2 separate regions of the Homo sapiens genome follow, and region 1 is linked to region 2. Evidence: fine-mapped expression QTL. Tissue or cell type: whole blood. Region 2 holds a variant in brackets; the other region holds the start of a gene. All regions are shown on one strand. Distances are from middle to middle.

What was found. PIP is the estimated chance that this variant, and not a neighbour inherited with it, causes the effect.
Region 1: it holds the start of IL15RA, and the variant in region 2 is fine-mapped to the expression of IL15RA in whole blood (TOPMed, PIP above 0.99).

What each region holds. Positions count from the first base shown.
Region 1 is chr10:5,973,222-5,984,300 of GRCh38, forward strand. It overlaps IL15RA (interleukin 15 receptor subunit alpha), which reads right to left and starts at 4,322. Exons shown (of 7, transcript NM_002189.4): 1 at 4,184-4,322. The coding sequence starts at 4,271. It overlaps LOC107984200 (a long non-coding RNA gene), which reads left to right. Exons shown (of 3, transcript XR_001747348.2): 3 at 1-843. RefSeq lists enhancers at 2,576-2,845, 2,976-3,055 and silencers at 3,946-4,325, 4,416-5,085, 8,465-8,759.
Region 2 is chr10:5,937,900-5,948,894 of GRCh38, forward strand. It overlaps LOC105376384 (a long non-coding RNA gene), which reads right to left and starts at 8,015. Exons shown (of 2, transcript NR_188180.1): 1 at 7,756-8,015. RefSeq lists an enhancer at 7,216-7,774. The variant A/G (reference allele first, on the strand shown) is at 7,268.

The sequences.
Region 1 (11,079 bases), 35 kb after region 2:
AGAAGGAGACTTTGCACCTTAGTGATATTGATTTGTCCAACCCATGAACATGGTATATCTCTCCATTGATTTTGTTCCTTAATTTCTCTAAGCAATGCTTTGTAGTTTTCCATATATGAAAGATGTCTTTCACATCTTTTGTTAGATTTATCCGTAAGTATCTAATGCTTTTTAATGTTATTTCAAATGACTTTTTAAAGTTTTTTAATTTCTAATTGTTCATTGTGAATGTATAGAAATAGAACTGATTTTTGTGTAGTGGTGTTTTGTATACTGCAACCAACTTAGACACATATGGCTGACTGATGTTCAAAAGGTATAAGAGAAGGTCAGTGAAGATAATCTTTTCAATAAAGGGTGCTGGAATAATTGGATATGCATATATAGAAACAAACAAAATCCCAAAACAACCTTTAATTCATGCCTCACATTATAAACAAAAATTAATTCAAAATGGATCACAGCCATAAATGTAAACCCTAAAGCTATAAAACTTCTAGAGGAACACATAGAAGTAAACCTTTGTAACCTTAGGCTAGGCAAATATTTCTTAGATATGACACCAAAAGCCCAAAACACAACATAACAAATTAATAAATTAGACTTCATAAAAATTAAAAACTTCTGCTTTTCAAAAGACACTGCTAAGAGAAAGGATAAGCCACAGAATCTGAGAAAATATTTGCAAATCATATACCTGATTAGGGCCTCGTATCCAGAATATATAAAGAACTCTCAAAATTCAGTAATGATACAATTCAATTTTTTATACATAAGACAGAGTCAGAAAAAAAAAAAAAGACAGTCTCGCTCTGTGTCCCAGGCTGGAGTGCAGTGGCGCGATCTCTGCTCACCGCAACCTCTGCCTCCAGGGTTCAAGCGATTCTCCTGCCTCAGCCTCCTGAGTAGCTGACATTACAGGCATGGGCTACCACAGCTGGCTAATTTTTGTATTTTTAGTAGAGAAGGGGTTTTACCATGTTGACCTGGCTGGTCTCGAACTCCTGGCCTCAAGTGATCTGCCCGCGTTGGCCTCCCAAAGTGCTGGGATTACAGGTGTGAGCCACCACACCCAGCTGATACAATTCAATTTTTAAGAGAGCAAAAAAAATATAAACAGATACTACCAGAGAAGATATATACATGGCAAATAAGCACATAACATCACCAGCTGTAGAAAAATGCAAATTAAAACTACAAGGGGAGACCCCCTACATACCTAGTAGAATGGGTAAAATTAAAAAGATTCATCATACCAAGAGCTGACAAGGGTGTGAAGGAACTGGAACTTCCCTACACTGCTGTGGGAATGTAAAATCGTATAACAACTTTGGGAAATGGTTTAGCAGTTTCTTTAAAAATTAAACTTCTGAGGCCAGGTGCAATGGCTCACACCTGTAATCCCAGCACTTTGGGAGGCCAAAGCAGGCAGATCCCCTGAGGTCAGGAGTTCGAGACCAGCCTGGCCAACATGGTGAAACCCCATCTCTACTAAAAATACAAAAATTAGCCGGGCGTAGTGGTGCAAGCCTGTAGTCCCAGCTACTCAGGAGGCTGAGGCAGGAGAATCGCTTGAACCCAGGAGGCAGAGGTTTCAGTGAGCAGAGATGGAGCCACTGCACTTCAGTCTGGGCAACAGAGTGAGATTCTGTCTCAAAATAAGTAAATTAAAAATAAATAAAAATTAAAAATAAATAAATAAAAATTAAAAATTAAACACCTGAGAGGTCAAGGCTGCAGTGAGCTATAATCATGCTACTGCACTCCAGCTTGGGAAACAATGGTGTGACATTGTTTCAAAAAAAAAAAAATTAAACATACACCTGCCATATAACACAGCCACTCTACTCCCAACCATTCTCTACCCATGAGAAATGAAAACATGTGTCCATACAGAAACCTGTATGTCAGTGTTCATAGCAGCTTTCTTTGTAATAGTCCCAAACTGGAAACAACCCAAATGTCCCTTAACAAGTGAATGGCTAAACAAATGATGGGCTAGCCATGGGTAGAATACTACTACTCAATGGTAGAAACTAATGAACTACTTATACAAATTACAACATGGATAAATTCTCAGGATAATTACTGTCTGTGAAAAAAGCCAAACAAGAAAGAGTTCCTACCGTGTAATTCTATTTATAAAAAATTTTAGAAAGTGCATCAAATTGCCTGGGAGATGGGCGAGGTGGGAGATGAGGACTGTGCAGGGCATGAGGAAGTCTTTGGGAGTGATAGTTGTGTTCACTCTTGGTGGTGGCAGTGGTTTCATGAGTATGTATGCATTTACCTCCAAACTTATCAAAGTGTGCAACTTCAATATATGCAGTTTATTGTCGGTCAATTATACCTCAATAAGGCTGTTAAAGGGAAAAAAAACAACGGCTGGGCAAGCTGGCTCACGCCTGTAATCCCAGCACTTTGGAAGGCCGAGGCGGGCAGATCACAAGGTCAGGAGTGATCACCATGTTGGATCAGCCTGACCAACATGATGAAACCCCGTCTCTATTAAAAACACAAAAGTTACTGGGCGTGGTGGCGATCGCCTGTAATCCCAGCTACTCAGGAGGCTGAGGCAGCAGAATCGCTTGAACCCAGGAGGCGGAGGTTGCAGTGAGCTGAGATCGCGCTACTGCACCCCAGCCGGGGTGACAGAGTGAGACTCCGTCTCAAAAAAGAAAACAAGAAAGAAAGAAAAAGAAAAAGAAAAAACATTGAGAGCTTTGGGAAGGGAAGGTAGCAACATCTTTCTAAGGTCAAAGGGCAAGGCTGTGCAGCTGATGAGATCAGAGATCTCACAGTGGTGCTCCCCTATCCACTCAGTCTTCAAGGAAGACACCTCCTCTCTGCTGGGCTTTGACTAAGGCTGCATTTCACTTTCATATTGTGTAATCCAGCTGCCCCAGTTGCCAGCTATGGGGTCCTGTGACACTGCTAGCCAACTGGGAGGAACCAACCGGTCACCAACTAACTCTGCTTCTCAGATGTGGGGGGAAATCCAAGCATCAGAGTCTCATGAAAACGAAACTTCAAGAAGCCTCGCAGAGCTGGGGTGGGGGTGGCAGAGGGTGGGGGGGCGTTCAGGCCACACCAGGCAGCAGCAACTGTGCGTGGAATGGCTTTGGCCAGGGCCTGGGCAGACTGGCCCGACTGGATGTAAATTATTCAGGGTCTCGCTTAAAAACACACACAGATCATGGCGTTACTAATTCCTATAGAGAGTCCATGGATGGCCTTCAGTGGGGCTTTGACCCCAAAATCATATGCACATTTTGTAACTATGTTCATTCATGCATTTTTCTGGGGGCCGGGGGTTCATAGCTTTCATCAGACCCTCCAAGAGCTCCCTGACTATAAAAAGATAAAGAAGCGCTGACAAGGATAGAGCTAGACCCTGCTACTGTTTTCCTCCTTCCTCTGGCTGCCGGGACAAAACCCCTAGGAATCGCTCATTCCGTCCTCCCTGCCGAGATCAGAGCTCCGCGACCCGCTTTCTTCTCGAATACACCAAGCGATCACAGATCTCTTCCCCCTTTTTCTGCGAGTGTAGACTCCAGGCTGGCCCCCACTCCCCACCCCCATCCGGTCCCGACCGCCTCTGCTGGTTTCCTGATCGCTTAAGAATTGGAAGTTGTTTCCAGGTCCCCAGGTGTGCAACTTGCCCGACGCGTTTCCCCCTGGGACACAGCTCCTCCCCACCCTCCCAGCTCCCACTGACATAATTTACTTTTGCCTGGGAGTCGGGAGGAGTAGTTTCTCCCGGACCCCTCCGAGGACCGCGTGCTATGCAACACCCGCCCTGCAGTCCAGGCGCCTGGGAGAAGCGCACTCGCCCGTGTCTCCAAACTGCTGGACGCCGCCGGCTCCGCGCTCCCGTGGCCAAAACGGGCTTCTCAGAACTGCTCCTGACCTCGGCCTCGGAGACCCCAGCCAGGCCGCCCGCTCCCTTACGTGGGTGACCCGGGCGCAGCGGCGGCGCTCTCCCTGCGACCCCGGCTCCCGGCACGTGTCCCTCCTGCCCGGCGCCGCGTCCCCTCCCCGGCCTGGGCCTGCGCGCACCGCGCTCCCGAGGGCACCGACGCCCCCGCACGGCCCGGGGAGATGGGGCGCCCGGTTCCCTCCAGCTCCACGTCCCGGCCCCCTTCCAAGTCCCGCCCGGGCGCCCCTGCTCCCAGCTCCCTACCCCGCGTCGCCGGCGGCCGGAGCAGCAGCAGCAGTAGCAGCGCCGGGAGACCGAGGGTCCGGCAGCCGCGCGCCCGCCGCGGGGCCATGGCGGCAGCTCCACAGGACACCGCTGGACTCCCCGGGCGAGCGCTGCCCAGGCCGGGGGGAGGTGGCGAGCGCTGCTCTGGGACCTGCCGCCCCGCCAGTCGCATTCGCTTTCGCTTTTGCTTTGGCCCCCGAGGGCTCGGAGAGGTGCAAAGCGGTGACAGATCCGTGACTCAGCGTCCCCACCCCTGCTGGGGAAGGAGCCCCGCCGGCCGCCGCGGCACCGCACAGCCACCCCTGTCCCCGGGACGCATGGGCCGTGCCCGGTGGGGACCCAGGACCTTACCCACGCAAGCCCGGGAGCCTCCCGGTCCTCCGCGCTCGTCGTGCTCTGGGACCTCCAGTGTGCACTCGGTCCGGTGTCCCCACTGCGAAGAGAGTGGGCAAAGTCATCGGAGAGCAGACTCTCTCCAGCCCTCTCTGCGGCTCGGATCCACTTGACCTCGCCCGGCGCTGGTCGCCTCCAGCTGCTCCGCCTTCGGCTTTCCTGGTCTCCCTCCGCGGCCCTGCGCTCGGTTGTGAGCGGCCGGCCTGGGTGAGTGCCCGCGGAGGTGTCGCCGCGGTGCGGAGGCGCGGGCACCTGCCTGGTGCGCTCTGGCCCGGGCGGAGCGCAGCCCCCGCCACCTGCTGGCTCCCGCGGCCCCCGGCGCCCGCTGGGGCCCCAGCTCCGCCACTTCGCCGAATTCCTGCTGCAGCTTTGCTCCCCTAGAAAATGCCTCATCTTAGAAGGAGAGGGGGCGGAGGGGGGAGAAGGGGGAGAGGAGCCACAGTGCTTCACCTCTGAGCCTCGCTTCCTTAGGTTCTTCCAGGCTGCCATCCTCCTCTTTGGCTGGTGGGTTTTTTTCTTTCTTGGGGTCTCAAGTGAAGCCTGAGAACCGGGTCTGTAAGCTCCCAAGTGCAGATTCTCAGGTCTAGCGGTGACATTGGACAGGACGAGACATCTCCAAGCCTCGGTCATTGCCTCTTAAAATCTCACAACGTGTTTATGAGGCTTTTGTGACATACTTGCAAATTCTCTTTGAAAACGAAATAATCTGTACAATAATCCCCCAAGACACAGGTTTACCTTTATAACAAACCTGCACTTATAACCCTGAACTTAAAAGTTAAATAAAAGAATTTAGGGCCGAGCGCGGTGGCCACTCCTGAAATCCAAGCACTTTCGGAGGCCAAGGCAGGTGGATCGCCTGAAGTCAGGAATTCGAGACTAGCCTGGCCAACATGGTGAAACCCCATCTCTACTAAAAATACCAAAATTAGCTGGGCATGGTGGCGGGCGCCTGTAATCCCAGCTATTCAGGAGGCTGAGGCAGGAGAATCACTTGAACCCAGGAGGCTGAGGTTGCAGTGAGCTGAGATCGCACCACTGCACTCCAGCCTGGGCAACACAGCCAGTTCCTGTCTCTTAAATTTAAAAAAAAAAAGTAGAAAGAATAATGAACCTACCATCCGGCAGTGACCACACAAGGTCCATTCTTTTTTTCTAAGCAGGAATAGCCACCCTTACTCCAACTGGGGAAATCCCACATTATTCAATTTCTCTCAATACTTAATAATAAATCTCAAGATGATAAGATCAAATTTAAAAATTAACAATATTCCTTAATATTCTCAAATATATTGAGGGTTTATTGAATGCAGGCTAAGCATAGCATGTATACAATAGAGCATTTTTTATTCTATGGACATTTATGAAGTAGAGATTTCTCCATTATTACAGACTCTTTGTAAAAGTTTTTAATGGCTGCAAATTATCATAGTTTAACATCCCCTCTATTATTTTAATATTAAAGATAACATTGTCATAAATGTCTTTCTACAAAATCTTGTGAATTTAAGATCGCTTAGAATAGATTTCCTACAGTGGAACTATTGAGTCAACTGGTAGGGAATATTTTTAAAGGCTTTTTCTCTTTTAAACAAATATTTCTATCTTGCTTTCCAAAAGTCTTGTATCAATATACCTTCTAACTAGCATTGATTGTGTTAAAGTACCCATTTTACTGCATTCTGACCAAAAGTAAATTTTAAAATTTGAAAATAAAATTGTAAATTTGGTATGCTTAAAGAACTCTATTTCATTACATATATATACGTTGTTAAATAATGTAAATTTCAAATATACTTCGAACTATAGCAATCAATAAATATAGTGGATATCCATGAGCCTACTGCCTCATCCTGTCAAAACTTAATATGTCTGCTCAATGTTTGCTTCAGATATTTTTTGGAATAAAAAAATTACAGATAAAGTTGAAGCCCCTTTGTATTCTTGCATCTTTCTCTTCCTCCGTCTTCCACTTTCTCGCAGGTAAATGTTTCTTGAAACTGGTACTCATCATTCCCAGGCATTCTTAGGCCCCTTTTCCATGTGTATGTCCATGTGCAACGGACAGGATGGCTTACATTTTTAAAAATTCATGTGATTAAGGCTGGGTGTGGTGGCTCATGACTGTAATCCCAGCACTTTGGGAGGCTGAGGTGGGCAGATCACTTGAGGTCAGGAGTTCGAGACCAGCCTGGCCTACATGGTGAAACCCCATCTCTACTAAAAATACAAAAATTAGCAGGGTGTGGTGGCACGCACCTGTAATCTCATCTACTTGGGAGGCTGAGGCATGAGAATCGCTTGAACCTGGGAGGTGGAGGATGCAGTGAGCTGAGATCACACCACTGCACTCTAGCCTGGGCGACAGAAAGAGACTCGGTCTCAAAAAAAAAAAAAAAAAATTCATATGAACAGTACCATACAGATTGAGCACCCCTGATCTCCAAATCCCAAATCCAAAATGGTCCAAAATCCAAAACTTTTTGAGCTCTGACATTACGCCACAAGTGGAAAATTCCACACCTGATCTCGTGGGGTGGGTGGCAATCAAAACACAGGCACATAACACACTGTTTATTCAGCATCCCCAAGGGGAAAAAAGACTCTCCCAGCCGCCTTCAGCTGAGAGATATCTTTTCTGTGCATGCCCAGATTCCCCCATGCAAGCACGCACACAAAAGGTGGTAAAATGGCCTGTGTGCAGGTCGAACACACCCATGGTAGGTCCCGACAATTCCCCATATGGAGCCAAGCCCCGCCTCTGTGCACTTCTCACTGTGCTATTTTTGCTTATTCTCTGCTCTCTGGTCTAATGATGTTGAAAATGTTGGCCGGGTGCAGTGGCTCACGTCTGTAATCCCAGCACTTTGGGAGGCCAAGGTGGGTGGATCACTTGAGCTCAGGAGTTCGAGACCAGCCTGGGCAACACAGCACACCTATAGGTGTGCACCACCACACCTGGCTGATATTTATTTATTTCTAGAGATGAGGTCTCACTATGTTGCCAAGGCTGGTCTCACACTCCTGGCCTCAAGCCATCCTCCCACCTCAGCTTCCTGAGTAGCTGAGATTACATGTATAATCAGGGACATCTTTTCTGATTAGTCTCACAAACATTTTGGACCAGTGGCTTGTGTCACTGTAGGGAGGGTGGACTGGATGATGACTGCAAGATTTTGTTTTTCTTTGACAACCATTCTGCTCATCCTCCAGCTGAAACTCTCATTAAAAATAATGTTTATGCCATGGGCTTTCTTCCAAATGTGACTTCATTACTTCAGCCATGTGACCAGGGTATCCTTAGATCAATGGAGATCAATGGAGAGTAAATATGGAAACATTGCACGCTAGCAGCAGTGAACAGAGGGGTGGGTGTGGAAGTTTTCAAAAGGTGTTTAGCATGAAGGATGCCAATGCTGTTTCCAATGCTTGGAACTCAGTGACTAACGACACAGCCATGCGTGCATGGCACAACCTCTGGTCTGCGACTATGTTCAGTGATGATGATGAACAAGGTGATGACATGGAAGTATTCCATATGTGAAGTGGGAAAAAAATGATGTCTGACCTCCCTATGCAGGCAAAAAATATACCTTCAGAGTGTGTCAGCATGCTGGACGAAGTGGATATACAGGTTTTTAACATCTATACTGTGGCTCCAGTTGTTCGTTCATTGACCGATGATGAACAATGGCAAAACGGTTCTGAACCAAGGTGCTTGTGCTAACAGTGATGACGAACATAATGCTGTTATCACAGCAGAACACGCACCTGCAGGCGCCATGATGAAAGCATGCGATGGGCTCATTGAAGGACTAGAACGGTGGGTGTTCGAGGCAGGGTAAGCAAGATGAGGACCCTGTACCAACTTGTCCCCTTGTGCGAAGCCCTGAAGGACCCTTTTGCAGAGTCTTCTTTTGCTTGCAACTCTCCTGCGTCAGCACCTAGTGCTTTTGCAAGATAAGCTGCCCTACAAGATACCAGCAGATGGCCAGATGGTTACAAGTTGCTGCTGCCTGATTCGGCCCAGAAAAGAGAACAAAAGCCCCTTTCTCATGATGTAGCTTCTCCAATCTCCAGCCAGTCTGCACCAAAAGCCCAAGAAGCTATTAGCTACGAACTCCTGCCTTGGGGGTAGGAACTTCTCCAGGGTTCTGCACGTGCTCTAGGCTCAAGGTTTAGCTTATAGTGAACTTTTCCTTTTTTTTTTTTTTTTTTTTTGAGGCAGGGTCTCACTATGTTGCCCTGGCTGGAGTGCAGTGGCGTGATTCCATCTCACTACAGCCTTGAGCTCCCAGGCTCAGGTGATCCTTCCGCCTCAGCTTCCTGAGTAGCTGGGATTAAAGGCGCCTGCCACCATACCCGGCTAATTTTTTTTTTGTATTGTTAGTAGAGATGGAGCTTCACCACGTTGGCCAGGCTAGTCTCAAACTCCTGACTTCAGGTGAACCTCCTGCCTTGGCCTCACAAAGTGCTGGGATTACAGGCATGAGCCACCGAGCCCGGCCTACAGTATCGTTTAATCAGAACACAGCATCATTGATGGAGATGGAAGCCCACTGTCGTGGTTGCTGTTGTCTGTCGGCTGATCCAGGTCTCTGATGACACCACTGGGCTGCTTAGTGACCCTGAACACATTATGTTTTCACTGGTTTAATGCTATGTCATATTTTTTACTGTTAAGTACTCATGTGTGAATAAGTGTAAGAAAACGATTGTTTGTAAGGGTAGCCCATAAATTCAGAGTCAGAGTCAGGAATGGTGGTGATGCCAATCATCCGCAGATGTTCACGTGGGTGACTGCAGTGGCAACAACGTTGCTTTCTGGGCGTTCAATAGACACAAACTGTTTCATGCACAAATTATTAAAAATATTGTATGAAACTACCTTTAGGCTATGTGTATAGGGTACATATGAAACATAAATGAATTTTATATTTAGACTTAGGTCCCATCCCCAAGATACCTCATTGTGTATATGTGAATATTCCAAAATCTGAAAAAATCTGAATTCTGAAATATTTCACATTCCAAGCATTTCAGATAATGGAGACTCAACCTGCACTGTCATGTCATTCCAAAACTTTCTTTTTCCCTTAGCATTAATTTCTCCATTGATACATGTAGTGGTAGGTCATTAATTTTAACTGTTAGATAGTATTACGCCCTGTTACACCCTGCTATACTCTGCTATTATCTGCGCTATTTTCTGCCATAACTCCTAAAAGCTTCAGGTAGTGTCCAGTGCTGGTCTAGACTTTCCCTCATTGTATAAATTGAATGTTTTAGCAGGAAACTGGAAAAGACCAAGGCCAATTATTGATTTAGAATGCCATTGTACACTCAAAGGCTCTTCTTTTTTTTTTAACCTTTTTAGAAATACTGTTTCCATAAATTATTTTCACTTAGATAATTAGTCCATTACTGGGATACTTACTCTGTTCCACAGTCTCCGCCAGTTATTATAGCTCTGTCATGTTTCCAAATCTTGCAGGGGATGGTCTGCCCCGTAAGTTCCTCCTCCCCAAGGTTTCTTTGCTATCCTTTTAAAGAATATTCTTATGTTTGTTCATCCAGATGAAATTTCGAATTTTTATTTCGGATTGTCAGTTACCTCTTAAAAAAACAAAAGGATCCAACATCTTGAATTGTATTTAGATGGAAATAATACTTAATTTCATCCATATTCCATAGGGACTACTTTCCTGGGTTAAACTGATATGACTTGATGGTATCTTTAAAAAACTTTTTGTTTGGAGGTAAGTAGAGATTCTCACGTAGTTGTAATGATACAGAGAGATCCTGTATACCCTTGACTCAGTTTTCCTCAATGGTAGCATGTTGAATAGCTAAAGTACAATATCACAACCAGGAAATGACATGGATACAACATATAGACATTCGAATTTTGCCAGTGTTACATGCGTGTGTGCGTGTGTAATTCTACACAATTTTGTCACATTGCAGGCGGTTGGGTTGTGGCCCCTCCACGGCCAAGATGCAGGGCAAGATGAAGCACACCAGGCTGCCTTGTGCTGCCCTTTTATAGCCACAGCCATCCGCCTCTCTCCACTTTCCCTCAGCACCGGCAGCCACAATGCTATCCATCTCTGCAACTTTGTCATTTCAAGAACGTTTGCTATATAAATGAAATCATCCAGCGTGTAGCCTTTCGAGGTCAGCTTTTGCAAACAGTGCAATTCTCTGTAGATCCATTCAAGCTGCTGCATGGATGAACAGCTTGGTCCTTTTTAGGAGCAACATGGGAGTCTCTCTTTAGAATGTATGACCCTCCCATCCACACTTCAGCCACGCCTGGCCTTTTCTGTGTGTATTAATTTCCTAAGCCTGCCGCAACAAAGTACCAAACACCGTGTGGCTTGAAACAACAGAAATTTGTTGTCTCGTAGTTCTGGAGGCTGGAAGGCTGAAATCAAGGTGTCAGCAGGTGTCTGATGGCTCTAGGGGAAAGTCCTTCCTGG
Region 2 (10,995 bases):
AATAACAATAATGTTTTAAGGAGGTCAGATAAATTACAAGGCTAACAGGATCATAATCTCAGCAAGAAATGACCCCAGATGGGCTGGACCACAGCGCCTGTGGGGCCTGGTGAGGAGGGAACGGATGCGAAGATCAGTGGTTCTCAAAGTGTGGTTCCAGCAAGCAGCGGCAACATCACCTGGGAACTTGTTAGAAATAAAAATGTTCAGTCCCCACACCAGGCCTACAGGATCAGAAACTCCAGGGTTGAGGCCCAGCTGTTCGTACATAACAAGCCTGACAAGTGATGCTCATGCATGCTAAGTTGGGAAACTTCTGCTCTTGATGTTTAGAAGGTAGAATCGGTCGGATTTCTGGAGTACTGGGATCATGATAGGGACACTCAGTGGTAGAGGTCATCTTCACTGAGACAGGGAAAATGGGAGCTATAGCAGGTTTGTGTAAACGCAGTGATCAGTTTGGTTTTCAGCATGTTGAGTGGAACCGTCTAGGAGGCTGTTGGGTGAACACATCTGTCCTGCAGCAAAGGGCCTGGCTGGACCTGGGGACTTTATAGAGTTGTCGGTGTGTAGGTGGTGGTGCAGTTTGAAGGGTTTCGCCGAGTTAATCCAGGAGAGTTTAGACAATGAGAAGAGCAGAGGGCCGAGAAGCAAAGCCGGCGGACACGAGGCTTGGGGTGAAGAGAGGAAGAGGGTTTAAGAAGAGCGACAGCTGATCCAGAGGAGCCTCGTGATGGAGCACCACTGAGCTCCGGAGAGGAGGGAGTTCAGGAAAAGGGGATCTTCAGCATCCAGTGCAGTAAATAGACCAAATAAACAAGGGTGGGCAGGTGTTTAACCAGCACTATCAAGGTCAGTTGACATTAGCTGATCAGTTTCAGTTAGGTGAGAAGCCGACCACTGTGGCCTAAAATGTGAGTGAAAAATTTGAGGGCTAAGAAGTATGTGTTCATTTATGGTTTCTTTCTGAAGCCATACTGTAAGGGCAGTAAAAGTTGTGTGTGTGTGTATGTGTGTGTGTGTTTTAACCCTTAAGGGCAAAGACAACAGGAAGGAGGCAGCAGTGATCCTGGAGGCATCAGGATCATCAAACATCTGAAGATGACCCGGCCCCTAAGATGAAGGCTAGAGGTCAAAACCAAAGAATCAACTTGGAGCAAACTGTCTGTACAGGGAGAAGAAAACATCTAAATATCTTTAACACATTCAGAGAATGGAGGAGGTAGTGCATTCCATAGAGTAGCAGGATAGATATGTATAAAATAATATTTGGGGCCGGGCGCATTGGCTCACGCCTGTAATCCCAGCACTTTGGGAGGCTGAGGCGGGTGGATCATCTGAGATCAGGATTTCGAGACCAGCCTGGGCCAACATGGTGAAACCCTGTACTAAAAATACAAAAATTAGCCGGGTGTAGTGGTATGTGCCTGTAATCCCAGCTACTCAGGAGGCTGAGGCAGGAGGATCTCTTGAACCTGGGACGCAGAGTAAGACTTCGTCTCAAAAAATAAAAATAAAATAAAATTTTGGAGCAAAAAATATGAAAAGAAACCCAGTAGAACTGTTAAAATAATAAGTTGAGAATCTAGAAAGTAGAGCAAAAACAAAGATTGAGAAGTAGTTAGAGGCTGGACGTGGTGGCTCATGCCTGTAATCCCAGCACTTTGGAAGGCTGAGTCAGGTGGATCGCTTTGAGCTCAGGACTTCAAGACCAGCCTGGCCAACATGGCAAAACCCATCTACAAAAAATGACCTGGGTGTGGTGGTGCACGATTGTGATCCCAGCTACTCAGGAGGCTGAGGCTGGAGAATGGCTTGAGCCCGGGAGGTGGAGGTTGCAGTGAGCTGAGATTGTGCCACCACACTCCAGCCTGGGTGACACAGCGAGAGCCTGTCTCAAAAAAAAAAAAAAAAGAAAAAAAAAACTAGGGAACCAATTTAAGAAGTTGAGCATCTGTGAATGGGAATTGCAGGAAGAGAAAATGGACAACAGAGTTAAGGAATTTTTAAATTTAATTTTTTTTCAGACGGAGTCTCTCTCTGCTGCCCAGGCTGGAGTGCAGTGACTTGATCTCGGCTCACTGCAACCTCCACCTCCTGGGTTCAAGCGATTCTCATGCCTCAGCCTCTTGAGTAGCTGGGACTACAGGCACATGCCACCATGCCCGGCTAATTTTTTGTATTTTTAGTAGAGATGGGGTTTCACTGTGTTGGCCAGGATGGTCTCGATTTTCTGACCTCGTGATCTGCCCACCTCGGCCTCCCAAAGTGCTGGGATTACAGGCGTGAGCCACCGCACCTGGCCGAAACATTTTTTTTAATTATGAAAATTACCTGAAACTGATGGTAAGGGTTTCTGGATTGAAATGACTCATTAAATGCCCAGGACAATGGGTGAAAATAGGCCCACATTGGCCGGGCGTGGTGGCTCACACCTGTGATCACAGCACTTTGGGAAGCTGAGGTGGGAGGATTGTTTGAGCCCAGGAGTTCAAGACCAACCTGGGCCACATAGGCAGACCCCATCTCTACAAAAAGTATAAAAAATTAGGTGTGGTGGCGCATGCCTTGTTCCCAGCTACTTGGGAGGCTGGGGCAGGAGGATGGCTTGAGCCTGGGAGGTTGAGGCTGCTGTGAGCCATGATTGCACCACTGACCACCACAGCCTGGGTGACAGAGCGCAGGACGTAGCCTGGGGGGAAAAAGGCAATGATTAGTCCTCTGGAAGGCGACAGGTTGTGTAGGAGAGAACTGTAATTGACCCCCCCCACCACCAGCTCAGTGGAGTGTACCTGCTTTCATGGCCTTCATAAGGGTGGGCGTGTTCTGCAGGTAGGAGCTGTGTGCACATGTGGAGTGAACGAGCCGAATCTTAGCCTCTGCGGCAGGAAGTCAGTCACAGTGCCTGAAACTCAAACATGGAAGCAGAAGCCCATGTGAGCCCATCATTTAGAGATATCTTGGAGATGCATAACACACACCGAGACACTCAGCAGAAAGATTTCTAAAAGTTTCCTTTTGGGAGGGGGAACGGGCAGGTGGAGGAGCTTTTTGGTAGGTGTCTTACATAACTGTTGGCTCTAAACTATGTGTCTGTATGATAGAACCATAAAATACCAGTGGGAGGTGAAGATACGGACACCACGTAGACTAGTTCTCAGAAAGCAAGGCTGGCAAGAGGCAAGAAGTGGATAGGGGATGACGTGGCCTTAGGGAGGGGTTTTTGCTTTTAAAACGAGAGAGGTTTGTGCAGGGTTATGTGTTGAGAGGAAGCAAATTCAGAGAGGAGAGATGGAAGCCAGATGAGAGGGATTGGGACGGGAGAGATGAAGGAGAAAGGGGTACGTTGTAAGTGGTTAGGGAGGAAGTTTAGGTTGCTCTCACCCAATAATTTTCTGGTTTTTTTGAGACAGGGTCTTACTCTGTCACTCAGGCTGGAGTGCAGTGGTGCAGTGACAGTTCACTGTAGCCTTGACCTCCAGGCCCAGGTGACCCTCCCACCTCAGCCCCTCAAGTAGCTGGGACTACAGGTGCATGCCACCATGCCCGGCTAATTTTTGCTTATTTTTTGTAGAGATGAGGTGTCGCTCTGTTGCCCAGGCTGGTCTGAAACTCCTGGGCTCAAGCTGTCCACCTGCCTCAGTCTCCCAAAGTGCTGGGTTTAGCGTTTGGGATGGACATAGAAGGGAATGGAGTGGAAGGTGACGGAAAACACAGGTGTGCCGGGCAGCACCCTCCCAGTTGACATCAAACACCATCCTTTTAGCTGGTATTTTTCCTTTAGCAGCCCAGGCATGAGGGCAGAGACGTCGCATGGTGGACTCAGACACAGCTTAATAAACTTAAGGCAGTGCAGCACCCCCGTGGGACCTTCCTGCCTGGGAAGCTGGTCACTGTCACGCTGCCTGCCCAGCTTCCGTCCTGTAGTGGCATTTGGTCTGTGTCTGGGAGCAACTCACTGTATCACAAAGGGACTTTGACACCCCTAGAATCAGACTATTAGCAATTTAACATGTTTTTCAAGTCTGATCCTTGCCCTTCAGTCCTTCCTAGTCACCCTGAACCCCTGGCTTTAGCAATGTGGGGTACACCGAGAGCCTGGAAGCTGATCACTCTACATTTGCAGTGAGTGGGTGCGGTAGAGACGTCTGAACCGAGGCAGGCAGGGTTCCTCCAGCTCCTTGCCCAGACATGAAGACAGTGCTACACGCACGCCCCTGGCCAAGGCACCTCTGCACAGCTGGGCTGGTGTGGGGGGCAGGGCTCCCTTAGCCGGCAGGGGCTCTCCCTCTGCCTGGCCTACTTAAGGGACAGGTTCTCCATGAGGGCCCAGGAGGTGCCGTCCCCTGCGATCCTCCTCACTGGGGACCTGTGTGTGTTTTATCCCTAGTGGCGTGGGCTGAGAGGTAGGTTAGGTGGAGGGAGGGGGGCTTCCCACTCAAACGCCAAGGTCGCCAGTCGATCACTCCATTTGCTGTCTTCGTGACATCTCAGCCCTGCCATGTCCCACATGCAGCCCCTGATTTCCTTCCGAGCCTGGCTGGCTCCTCCACGCACCCTTCCCCACCTCCAGAAACAGCACCACCATCGGGCTGTGATACTTTTCTTCATGCCAGTTCACTGGGAAGCTCCACGCGGCCTCCAGGGTGCACCACCCACCCGCCCGCGACCCTCCACCGTTCTGCCTCCTGGACCAGTTGTAGTCTATGTTGCTCTGTGCCTCTGCCCTGGCCCAACTCGCTCCCATGTAGAGGGACCTGCAATCTTACAATGAAGACTAACGCCGGTCACCCTCCTGCCTCAACCCTGCAGGGCTCTCCTGTTGCGATGAGGGCGTCAGCCCAAGTTGGACCGCAGCGGAAAGGCTGGCGTTTCCTGTCCATTTCCAGGCTGGCCTCTGTCACCCTAAGCCTGTCTTTTAAAGGAACTCACTGAGGGCCCCAGGAAGCGGCCAGCACAGTGCTGACATCCTGGATTTTTCTTTTCTTCCTTTTTTAAATGTACAATTCAGTGGTTCTGATTTTTTTTTCTTTTCTTTTTTTTTTTTTTTTTTGAGACAGAGCCTCACTCTGTCACCCAGCCTGGAGTGCAGTGGTGAGATCTCCGCTCACTGCAACCTCTGCCTCCCGGGTTCAAGCGATTCTCCTGTCTCAGCCTCCCAAGTAGCTGGAATTACAAGCATATGTGACCACAACCAGCTAATTTTTGTATTTTTGGTAGAGACGGGGTTTCACCATGTCGGCCAGGCTGGTCTTGAACTCCTGACCTCAGGTGATCCACCTGCCTCAGCCTCCCAAAGTGCTGGGATTACAGGCGTGAGCCACTATGCCTGGCCTGAATTTTTTATTTTTTTTAAAGTAATCATTTTCCTAATACATGTCTTCCTAATCTGGACCCCACAGATTAAGAAATGCTTTAGTTTTTAATACCCATGGTATATTCTACTACCACTATGTGAAGAGTTGCAGTTAGAACTCTTCCAAAAGATCACATTAAAAAAAAAAATAGCATCAGCCTTTGGAGTCCAGGATGAACAATAAAATAAAAAATAAGTAGCATGGAGGTCACATGGAGAGAGCTTCACCAAGAATTGGCGACACCTGGTGACAGGTAACACTTTAATCAGCCTCACACACACATAATGGGGTCGGTCCCGCGTCCTCAGCCAGCTCCACGTATTTTAGAGTCTCTTACAACATCCCCACTTAATTGGCTGTGAGTGGCCCCAGAGCAAGGCTCTCAGGGGCGGGAAGCAGAAAGTGCTGATTCCACGGGCGTGCGGAGGAGGCTGGTGGCAGGGGCTCGGCTCAGCTGCTCCCAGGCATTCCTTCCTCCCCTGCTCATGTTCGGTGCCTCAGCGTCGCCGGGCAGGCTTCTCTTGGCCAGCCACCTGCAGGGCAGTGTCACGGGAGGCAAGGGAAGGGTAGGCTGGTCTTCTGTGTCTCTTAGGAGTGTGGCAGGCCGGGTCTCTCTTAGCAACCAGAGCAGCCAGCCTCACCAACACCTTACTATAACTCTGAGGAATATATAAATTAAACGAGGAAAATTGGAGAAACTGGTGCCTTAATACAAAGGCTAGAGTGTAAAAACAAGTCGATTAAGACCCCACCTGGGCTTTCTCCCAGACCTTAGAGTTTAATTAAAATAATGGAGGCGTTCTTGTGGACCTTGTACCATGATCCACTTTAAATTAAGTAATTGGGCCAGGAGCAGCGGCTCACGCCCGCAATCCCAGCACTTTGGGAGGCTGAGGGAGGAGGGTCGCTTGAGCCCAGGAGTTCAAGACCAGCCTGGGCAACATAGTGAGACCCTCCCTCTAAAATAAGAAAGAAAAAAAATGAAGTAATTGTTTCAAGGCTCTGAAGTAATTTTCCAGACCCCAGACCCTAGTGAAAGATTAAACAGAGGAATATACTTCAGCTTGGAGGTGTACTCCTGCACATAGGCATATGGTTTAAATGTGTATAAGCACTGAAAAAAAACTTATAATTTTAAATTAGTCTGGTGAGTTACTCTGACCTTCTCCCTGTAACCAGAAATAAACTCCCTTCTTCCCCACTCTGTCTGCAGCTTGTTATTGGACCATGAGAACAAGCAGCTGGACCTGGTTTTGTCTGGGAAGAGGCGCAAGAAAGCCTTTCCCACAGGCTTCTCCAGCTGACTCACATATTGTTGGTCAGAACTGGGCTACCTGCCCACTCCTAAGCCAATCATAGTAAGGAAGAATGGCTTCAAATCATCAGGGTTTTATTTCCTGGAGCTTGGGATGAGGTCAGCTTTCCATGATGCACACGGCTGGGTGAAATAATAAATCCTAAAAAAGTGGGAATGTATTTGCGAAGGAAGGGGCAGGTGCTGATTACCATGTAAGTAAATATACCTCATTAAGGAAGTGAACTCAACGTTTATTAGGAGCCTCCTGCAGGTAGACGCTATCAGGCCTTTGTGTATGTGAATTCCTTCAGTCCTCACAGCAAACCTGGGAGGCAGATGACAGCCGCCATTTGCAGATGAAGAAACAGGCTCTAAAGAGTCACGGGGCTGGGCCCACTGTGCTCAGTATCACAGAGCAGAGCTTGGATGAAAACTCAAGTTCAATCCCAAACCCATAGTATTTCCACTACCACTGTGTGAAGAGTTGGAGTTAGAACTCTTCCAAAAGATCAGTTTGTTTGTTTTTTTAAAGCATCTGCCTATGGAGTCCAGGATGAACAATAAAATAAATATTTAATAGCATGGAAGGCTTTCAGATGTTCTTAGCCATGGA[A/G]TTCTTTAGGCTTAATTTTACTTCCAGTTAACAAATGCAGCCGCTGTGGTCACTCAGGAGGGGGATGGGCACCCAGAGTTCCTTCTCCGCTCCCGCCTGTGGTGGCCCCTCAGGTGCCTCTGCAGCCACCAGGGCTTCCCAGAACACTTGGAAAACACCTGCAGCCACTGCAGCCCCGGGACACTGACAGCAATTTGAGTACCCTCTGGGTGGCATTAACTCCAAGGAGATTTTGAAGATTACACCCCATTTTTGAATTATTTTGGAGACAAGAGTCCCACTCTGTCGCCCAGGCTGGAGCGCAGTGACGCGATCACCGCTCACTGCAGCCTCATGCTCCTGGGCTCAAGCGATCCTCCCACCTCAGATTCCTGAGTAGCTGGGACCCTAGGTGAGCCATGGCACCCAGTTATACACTTCTGTAACTAGGACTGTTGGCTCTCTGCCCAGAGGAATGAAGACACAGCTTCAGAAAGAGAAGCACTAACCTTCATGGTGAGGGCGTCCACCAGGAGGGAGTGGTTTTGCCAAGCGGGGACTTGAGGCAGACGGCCCAAGTTTCACCAACTGTGTTCAATCCTACGGGACCCTTGCTCTTTTTCAGTTTCATTTTCCTTCCAGTTACTGAGCAGCCCTCCCAGGACCCGAGGATGCAGGGCATGCAGGGGCGGCGCAGTGCTTCCCCGGCCAACCCCTGCCTTGCCGTCCGGTTGACCTGGCTGCCCAGCAGCCATGCTCTGTCTTTCCTGAACGTGTTGCTCAATTTCCTGTTTGGGTTTTTGCCTCCACCGCCCCCCCCCACCATTTAGAATGCTCCCTGCCCGTTTATTTAAATTCCACCCATCCTTCCAACTCACATCCTGCATTCCTCAAGCTTCCAGGCCTTGGAGCCATTTCTGCCTTTACTGGGCTCGTGTCCCATTAGTGTGTGTGCTTGTGGTGTAAGGTTTTGTTTCATATTTGTTCCGGTATGCTTCTCTTTTTGACCAGGCTGTAAACTTCTTGAGGATTAGTACCAGGCTTAACTGTCAGGATCTCTAGTGGCTAGCGAGGGGAGAGACAGACGCCAGGGTCTCCTGTGACCCTCACGCCTCTGGGAAGGGAGTGCATGTGCCGTCATCCCCACTACAAAGATGAGGCAATGTCCGTGTGTGTAGTGTCTCCAAGTGACAGGGCCAGCAAAGGGTAGAATGGATGCTCAGCAAAGGGTAGAATGGATGCTCGACACTCAGGCTTTTAAGTTCTATCTTCTTTCCACTGCACAAAGATAGTATTTTGCAGATGCCACATGAATAGCACCGATAATAAGTGTTATGAAGGCTCAGAGGCAAATGATTTTGTACAACTGAGTCATTAGCCAAGGCTCCGGGGCTGGGCATGGTGGCTCACGCCTGTAGTCCCAGCACTATGGGAGGCCAAGGCGGGTGGATCACTTGAGATCAGGAGTTCCAGATCAGCCTGGACAACATGGCGAAACCCTGTCTCTATCAAAAATATAAAAATTAGCTGGGCATGGTGGCACGCACCTGTAGTCCCAGCTACTCAGGAAGCTGAGGCAGGAGAATCGCTTGAACTCGGGAGGCGGAGGTTGCAGTGAGTGGAGATCGTGCCACTGCACTCCAGCCTGAGCGACAGAGCGAGACTCTGTCTCAAAAAAAAAAACCCTCCAAAACTGAAACAACAGAGGCTCCTGGAGAAGGTAAACTTGATCTGGTTCTGGAAGGTGAGTTGGATGTAGGAGACTGTGAAGGAAGGACAGGGGCATTGGGCATTGGCTACGGGCTTGGCCTGTGAGGAGGCCGCAGGTGGGACGTGGGGGTGGAGGTGCTTGCAGCAGGGCCCGGCCCAGCCTTGGGGAGCTCTTGTTTCCACGGAACAGGCTGATTCCTGGGATCCTGAGGGTCTGATTGGGATTCTCAGCAAAGTTTTCTCCCCATGCAGAATGGGACAGGGGGAGGAAATTGTCAGCAGAACAGACTTCCTTTTGCAAGATGCCCCCCTCGAGCAGGAGGCAATGTTGCAGCATTGTCAGGCAGAACAGAGGGCTGCTTCTGAGGACAAGGGAGGGTGGGGGATCCTGTGAGTCCTCCAAATGTCCCCCTACATTTTTAATCCAGTACAGGAACCTCGCCCTTCTCCAATCAGTGCTCTCCCTTCAGCTGGGAAACCTGCTGGGGCCATGGATTCAGCTAATGTTCTTCCAACAACTTGACGGCTTAGACTGTTGTTTTTTTTTGGAGACTGTGTCTCCTCTGTCATCCAGGCTGGAGTGCTGTGGCATGATCTCGGCTCACTGCTACCTCCTGGGCTCAAGCAGTTCTCCCACCTCAGCCTCTTGAGTAGCTGGGACTACAGGCACATGCCACCACAACTGGCTAATTTTTGTATTTTTTGTAGAGACAGGGGTTTCGCCATGTTGTTTGGGCTGGTCTTGAACTCCTGGACTCAAGCGATCCACCTGCCTCGGCCTCCCAAAGTGTTTGGATTACAGGCATGAGCCACGGCGCCCAGCCAAAGGCTCAGACTCTTAAGATGGGTTTTCAGATATCCTGGCCTCGCATCTGTAAGGAATGAAATTCCGCGTTGTTCTAGGCAGTCTTTAGGTTTCAGCCTGTGGCTTGAATTCAGACTTTAGAGATTTGAACTTCTTATTCTCTAAGTTTTTCAGTGACATTAAAAGCAGCTACCCACTATGGGCTCAGATTTCTCATATCCATACGATTTCAGGATGGACGCAACATAGTCTCTGAGAGCCAGGCTTGCAGCAGGCATGACATCCCAGGCACCTCCTGGCGAACTAATTACCGAATTCCCTGGGCCGCTCCATTCCTGTCTCTGCATATCATCAGAACATTCACTCTTTTCTCTCGTCCCTAAGGCAGATAACCAGCCGCAGACACTCCTTATCTCCCCTCTTCTCCATAATTTGCAATACCCACTCCTGGTACCGAATTTCATATCAGCTAGGAACTTTTCAGTGACAAGTAATGAAAACAGAATCTGTTATAAAGAAAAAAAAATGTATTGGAAAGATACGAGGGGCTCATAGAATCCCGGAAAATGGGAGGCTTAGGTTTGGAATATGGTTAGGACCTAAAGACGCCTGGAGAGCCCAGAACAGGAGGCCCAGCAGCCAGTCAGAGCTTCTGAGGCCACTGCTGGCCACTGCCCTGTGAGTTCTGTGCTCTTCATTCTCTGTATTCAACAGCTTTGTAGTCTAGCTGAGAGGCCCTGGAGGCCACGCCCAGGCCAGGTGCCCACGCGTGGGGAGAGCAGGGAGAGGGGAGGTCAGCCCGTCTGTGTCAGTGGGTGATGAGGCACCCCAACAGGATGGAGGAGCCCCAGTGGAATTCTGCATTCCCATTCTTTCTCCTCCTTTGTGTGGAACATTTCTCCTTGGTGATTTTTTTTTTTTTTTTGAATTGGAGTCTCGCTGCGTCTCTCAGGCTGGAGTGCAGGGGTATGATCTCGGCTCACTGCAACCTCCACCCCCAGAGTTCAAGTGATTCTCCTGCCTCAGCCTCCCAAATAGCTGGGATTACAGACGCTCACCACCACGCCAGGCTAATTTTTGTGTTTTTAGTAGAGATGGGGTTTCACCATGTTGGCCAGGCTGGTCTCAATTTCCTGACCTCAGGTGATCCACCCGCCTCGGCCTCCCAAAGTACTGGGATTACAGGCATGAGCCACCCTGCCCGGCCATCCTTGGTGATTCTTTTAATGCATTT